Linked DNA regions of Homo sapiens. The protein of the gene in region 2 interacts with the protein of the main gene of each other region in a pairwise test. Each region holds a gene or a part of one and is shown on either strand. Other genes may lie near its edges.

What was found. The genes of interacting proteins can lie anywhere in the genome.
Region 1: the proteins of KATNBL1 (region 2) and SNAPC3 interact in a two-hybrid assay, tested with the Homo sapiens proteins (one large-scale study listed by BioGRID and IntAct).

What each region holds. Positions count from the first base shown.
Region 1 is NC_000009.12:15,425,876-15,429,375, reverse strand, and holds part of SNAPC3 (snRNA-activating protein complex subunit 3), read right to left. Parts: intron 1-3,500.
Region 2 is NC_000015.10:34,200,097-34,203,596, forward strand, and holds part of KATNBL1 (KATNB1-like protein 1), read right to left. Parts: intron 1-3,500.

The sequences.
Region 1 (3,500 bases), on a different chromosome or scaffold from region 2:
TCATCAATTGGTTGGATAAAGCTCATTCTCTTGTATATTCCTCAGAAATGGCCAGCAGGTACAGAAATTACCCAGGTTTTCGTTATGTCGAAAACTCTTTTTCTATAACCTTGACATTTGAGAACATTCAGTTAGATATAAAATCCTTCAATTCACACCTTCATTGAGCTTTAAAAAAAAACACTGCTCTATGTTGCCTTGCTTTGTATGTCAGTTTTTCAACATGTGATGCTTTTTGTAAGTTTGCCTTTGTAAGTTATATGTTCTTTTTGCACAGAAGACTTGATGATTTCATCTTTATCTCTGAAATCTAATAGTTGTACTAAAATATATCCCAAAAGTCAATAAGTCTGGGTTAATTTTTCCAGGTACCTAGGGAACCCTTTCTAGATTTAGTTTTTTTTTCAATTTCTGGAAACTTTTGCTGGATTATGTTTTTAAACATGAATTATGTTCCATTTCTTTTTCTTCTTCAGGGACTCTGATAATATGAATATTATGTCTTTGCCTATCTACCTACCATTCCCTACTTTCTCGGATTCATCTTACTTTTTTCTTTGTCATTTTCAATTCTCTTCGTTGTTTTTATGCCTTTCTTCATTGCCTCTTGCTTTCATTTCAGTCTATTTTCCCTTAGGTATCTTACAATTTATTCACTTATGAGGTAATTGTCTTTTTCTTCCATTTCTTCCCTTTGTTTCATCAACTCTTTTTTCATTTCTCCTTTAGTCATCATTTCCATTCTTATTAATAGTTTTAAAAATTCTAAGCCAAGGTAAACATTTTTATACCCTCAAATGCTTATTTGAGTATATTCAATTCTGTTTGGAGTACAGACTTATAGGCTTTCTCTTTTTTTTTTTTTTTGAGACAGAGTCTCGCTGTGTCGCCCAGGCTGGAGTGCAGTGGCGTGATCTCGGCTCACTGCAAGCTCCGCCTCCCAGGTTCACGCCATTCTCCTGCCTCAGCCTCCCAAGTAGCTGGGACTACAGGCGCCCGCCACCACGACCGGCTAGACTTAACAGGCTTTACCTGTTTCCGAGTGGAACAGGTAGTCTCCAAAGTTGATCTGTATAAACAGTTATTTCCTGATTATCTGCAACAAGCTCTCGTTAGATTTTATTTCCTCTTGCTCATTTTTGTAACATCTGGGGCACAGTGATAGTTTACAAGATTCCCAGTTTGATGGTGCTCTTTTCTGTCATTCTAGCCAACTTCAGATATATGAGAGCTGTTTGACAGTTTTTTTTTTTTTTTTTTTTTTGGAGACAGAGTTGCGCTGTGTCACCCAGGCTGGAGTGCAATGGCGCGATCTCAGCTCACTGCAACCTCCACCTCCCGGGTTCAAGTGATTCTCTTGCCTCAGCCTCCCGAGTAGCTGGGACTACAGGCGGGTGCCACCACGCCCAGCTAATGTTTGTATTTTTAGTAGAGGTGGGGTTTCACCATATTGGCCAAGCTGCTGTTGAACTCCTGACCTCAAGCACTCCACCCTGTTTAAGTTTTTTTAAAAAATCATTTGTGGTTGGTTTGGTGGAATAGGAGTTTTGAGTTCTCCAATTTCATGGTTCTTTTGTTTTTTGTTTTTGCAGGACTCTGTAAGTTCCTTTTGTTAACCTTTAAACAGTACATCCTGGACCTGTAAACAGTGCTTTCTTGGTCACAAAAGTGAGGGGGATGGGCAGAATAATCTAAAATTTCTATTGTATTAAAAGTAATGTTGCTGAAGGGCTGGGCGTCGTGGCTCACGCCTGTAATACCAGCCCTTTGGGGCAAGGCCGGCAGATCACTTGAGGTCAGGAGTTTGAGACTAGCCTGGTCAAAATGGTGAAACCCCATCTCTACTAAAAATATAAAAAATTAGCCAGGCATGGTGGCACACGCCAGTAATCCCAGCTACTTGGGAGGCTGAGGCAGAAGAATCACTTGAGCCCAGGAGGCAGAAGTTGCAGTGAGGAGAGATTGAGCCACTGCACTCTAACCTGGGCAACAGAGTGAGTGAGACTCTGTCTAAAAATAAATAAATAAACAAATAAATAAGTGATGTTGCTGAAGCTTTTGGAATGACAAGTAAGTTTTAGCAGCACCCATGTATTAACAATTATCTCTCCTATTCCTAGGAATTAAAACCAACTAAGTAGTCAAAAAAAATGTCAAAACTGCCAAAGCTATGTAGTTTGCTATAGATTAAGGGAGCAACATGTATCAAGGAAGAATCAATATCTACCAACTACCTTTGGTCCCTTATATGCATAAAACGAGCTCTTTCATTTGATGTGGGAAAGAAAAAGTACCAGAAATTTATTTTATGTCATAATAAAGAAATGATGTACTTATGTTTTATTTTTATAATATAATAATGTGAAATTATTGGTGAGGAAAAGGAAGGTTCAGAGAAAGATAAAGCATAGAGATACAAATTTAGGCTTTTGCCACAAGTCTAATTTTTTTTTGGCAGGACCATTAAGGTTAACAATGGTCATGTATTAAATACACTAGCTTCACAGTATATCAAAATAACCCCAGTTGAAGAATACCGTACTGATTTACATTAGATTATATATAATTCTACCCACAAATCCTGTTTGGAGGGACTAGAAGAAACCAAAGAGATCTAGTTGACCTAGTAGTGCAAAGTAGTCAAGGGAAATAATGTTTAAGCAGTCTTAAAATTACTATTTAACATGGCTTAACAAAATTACTATAAATCAATGAATACATTATTAACTATAGCAAAAAAGAGTCTGCTTTAATATGATTATCATCAACGTTCTTTTTTCAGTCTATCTCTAAAAATCACTTCCTGAGTCTTCTGAAAGTTTCATTTATTCCACTCATTCTACAAATATTTGTTGGCTCCCTACTATGCACCACAGTTCTAGGAATTGGTAATATAGCAGTGAGTGTGGCAGATGTAACTTAAGGAACTTTCAAGTGTAGCTAAGAAGACAGAAAATTAAACACGTATATTACAGATGTGATGAGCATTTCAATAGGGAAGCATAGGGTGCTACATGAGCATACAAGATGACCTAAATGGAGTCCGTAGTCCTTTAGCTAAGACTTGCAGGATGAGTAGAAGTCAACAAGGTCAGGAGATAAGCAAGAATGACTGTTCTGGGCAAAGGCCTGGAGTGAGAGAGCATATTCGAGGAACTGAAACACAGTGCAGTGTGGCTGGAACACTGCAGAGAGAAAGCTTAAAAAAAATCAGCAAGGTCGGGCCAGGTGCGGTGGCTCATATCTGTAATCCCAACACTTTGGGAGGCCGAGGTGGGTGGATCACGAGAGGTTGGCCAACATGGAGCCTGACCAACATGGAGAAACTCCGTCCCTACTAAAAATACAAAATTAAGCGTGGTGGCACATGCCTGTAATCCCAGCTACTTGGGAGGCTGAGGCAGGAGAATCACTTGAACCTAGGAGGCGGAGGTTGCCGTGAGCCGGGATCGCACCATTGCACTCAGGCCTGGGCAACAAGAGTGAAATTCCATCTCAAA
Region 2 (3,500 bases):
TTACAATCCTCTGGCTAGACAGAAAAGTTCTCCAAGTCCCCACCCAACCCAGAAACCCAGCTGGCTTCACCTCTCACCTACTCGGAACAACTCAAAGTTGATATCTCAAGGGTTTAATATTTCCTGAATGATGATTCATCACACCACTTTCTCTCTCTCTCTTCTTTTTTTTTTGAGATGGAGTCTTCCTCTGTCTCCCAGGCTGGAGTGCAGTGGCGCCATCTCGGCTCACTGCAACCTTCGCCTCCCGCATTCAAGAGATTCTCGTGCCTCAGCCTCCTGAGTAGCTGGGATTACAGGTGCGTGCCACCACGCCCAGCTAATTGTTTTTTTTTTTTGTATTTTTAGTAGAGATGGGGTTTCACCATATTGGCCAGGCTGGTCTCGAACGCCTGACCTCTTGATCCACCTGCCTCAGCCTCCCAAAATGCTGGGATTACAGGCGTGAGCCACCACGCCCCGCCCACCACTTTCTCTTAATTCAGTTTTCCACAGTAAGCTGATTTGAGAAATAACGTCAAACTCGGGAAAGCAGATCAAGCATGAAAATAAAGACAGATGTCTGGAGATTCAGTGGGTACAATACTATATCATTTCAATCAATTTGGATCAAACTGAATTCCAACTCTCTTATGACTGAGATACCCTGAAATAAAAATTACAAAAGAGATGCCAAGTGGGAATTAGCTTTCCTACTACCTCTTCCTCAGTGTTTTTGTTTTGTTTTGTTTTGTTTTTTGAGACAGCGTCTTGCTCTGTCGCCAGGCTGGAGTGCAGTGGCGCCATCTCAGCTCACTGCAACCTCTGCCTCCCAGGTTCAAGCGATTCCCCTGCCTCAGCCTCCCAAGTAGCTGGGATTACAGGTGCACACCACCACACCTGGCTAATTTTTTGTATTTTAGTAAAGACAGGGTTTCACCATGTTGGCCAGAATGGTCTCGATCTCCTGACCTCGTGATCTGCCCTCCTCGGCCTCCCAAAGTGCTGGGATTACAGGCTTGAGCCACCACACCCGGCCTCTTCCTCAGTTTTAATCAAGTCCACTTAGATTACTACATTAGGGAACTGGGACTAATAATGGGAAAATAAAATTAAAGAACTAGGTAGATGTTTATCACCATCCATAGTTGTGGACCTACACAGGCTTTTTAAAAAACATAACTATGCCTTATACTGGAAAGTAGGGAGAAAAAAGTAAGGTAGCAAAACACTATGTTACCACTTAGGTTAAAAAGTGTGTGTCTGTGAGGGACTACTTGTATATTCACTAAATATCTTTTGAAGGATATGAGAGAAACTGGGGACAAAAGTCACTTCTAGTGAGAGGATATGTGTGGCTAGGGGGTGAAGGGAGAAGACTTTTCCCTTTTGGGCCTTTTGAATTTTGTATAATGTGCAAGTATGTTTTAACTTAATTATAATGTATTAGAGTATTATATACATATTTTCTTAAATGGCTATAAAACACCTGAATCTTTGGGAAGACTTAGGACTTCTTACGCCTAGAAGTAGATGGTTATGATTATTCTAGCATGTTTTGGTGAATTCGCCAAATTCCAATTTACTTTCCCTGTTAGAATAACCCAGTATTTTCTGGAAATATTCAACAGGGAGGAAAAAATACTTGATTCTGTTTTAATTGTCTTCTTGGACTCAGAAATGGAAAATATATATACAACTGGCCCTCTGTATCCGTGGGTTCAGCATCTGTGGATTCAATCAATTCCCAATCAAAACTATTTAGAAAAAAAATACATCTCTACTGAATATGTAGACTTATTTTTCTCATCACTATTCCCCCAATAATACAGTATAACAACTATTTACATAGCATTTACATTGTACTAGATATTACAAATAATTTAGAAATTATTTAAGGTGTATGGGAGGATGTGCAAAGGTTATGTGGAAATACTACACCACTTTATATCAGGGATTTGAGCATCCTCGGATTGTGATATCATTGGGAGGTCCTGGAACCAATCGCCCATAGATAATGAGGGATGAATGTATACATACATAAAACATTGTCACTTTAAGGATCATTTTTGACCCTTGTTTGCCTACTAAAGGTATTTCTGATACTTTCAAAACCAATAGACTCTCTACATATGAGAGGATATACCAATAAAGTAGTATTCAACTCTCAAAATGATGAGCTAATATAAATTAATTAAAAAACTCTATCTTCATTATTTGGACTAATGTCACCACCCTACGACACTTGTGCCTAATTTCTACAGTACCAGAAGTCAACAGGGTTAAGTATACCCTAAGCCTTGGAAAAAAGGGTAGATCATCCTTTAAGAATTAACAAAAATGATACTAGAGACATTCAAAATCTTTTTATAACAACGGTTCTTAAACCTTTATGTTCCAAAACTTGTGAGGATTATATTACATCCCCAACAGTTACAGTGGTTGGGCACCACCATATCTCCTAGGCTGAAATCAGAACGTATATTAAGGTTTGAAAATGCCTCCTCTCTCAGGGAACACTTTCTTCTCCAACAGAAGAATCACTTGCAGGCTCAAGAAAATATGACTCCTGTGTCCAAGACTTAACTATAACAAAAATTAACATATTAACTTTCATTTAAGAATAAAATCTCGGCCAGGCGCGGTGGTTCACGCCTGTAATCTCAGCACTTTGGGAGGCCTAGGTGGGCGGATTGCCTGAGGTCCGGAGTTCGAGACCAGCCTGGCTAATACGGTGAAAACCCATCTCTACTAAAAATACAAAAATTAGCTGGGCATGGTGGCAGGCACCTGTAATCCCAGCCACTGGGGAGGCTGAGGCAGAAGAATTGCTTGAGCCCGGAAGGCGGAGGTTGCAGTAAGCCAAGATCACGCCATTGCACTCCAGCCTGGGCGACAGCAAGACTCTGTCTCAAAAAAAATAAAAATAAATAAATAAAATCTCTCATCATACTGTTTCACCTAAACTCTGGATTCAAATCTCCAACTGCCTACTAGCCAGCTCCACATGGATATCCAATAGTCATCTATTCTTGAACTTAACATATTAAAAATAGAACCCTTAATATCCCCCCTCTCAAATCTGCTCCTCCCAACAGTCCCTAACTCAGTAAACGGAACCATCCTCCTTCCAATTTCTCAAGCCTGAAATAAAGGATTCATCCTTGATTTCTTTTTTCCTTAATAACCTACATCCAATTTGTTGACTTTGCCTTTATAATATATTCCCAAGCTGTCCGTTTCTTTCCATTTCCATTACCACCATTCTAGACCAAACCACCAACTCCTTTAGACTATATAATAGCTTCCTAAATGCTTCAGCCACACTGGCCTTCTGTCCTTCAACATTTCAAACTTATTTCCATTTTGTGGCTGAGCCATTCTTTCTGCTTAAAATATTCCTCCCACACACTCACCACCCAATCAAGAATAACCCCACCCTCACTTACAATCATTCTCTATAGCAGTACCCTGTATTTTTCCCCCACCACATTTATCACCATCTGGAAATTAGCTTATGC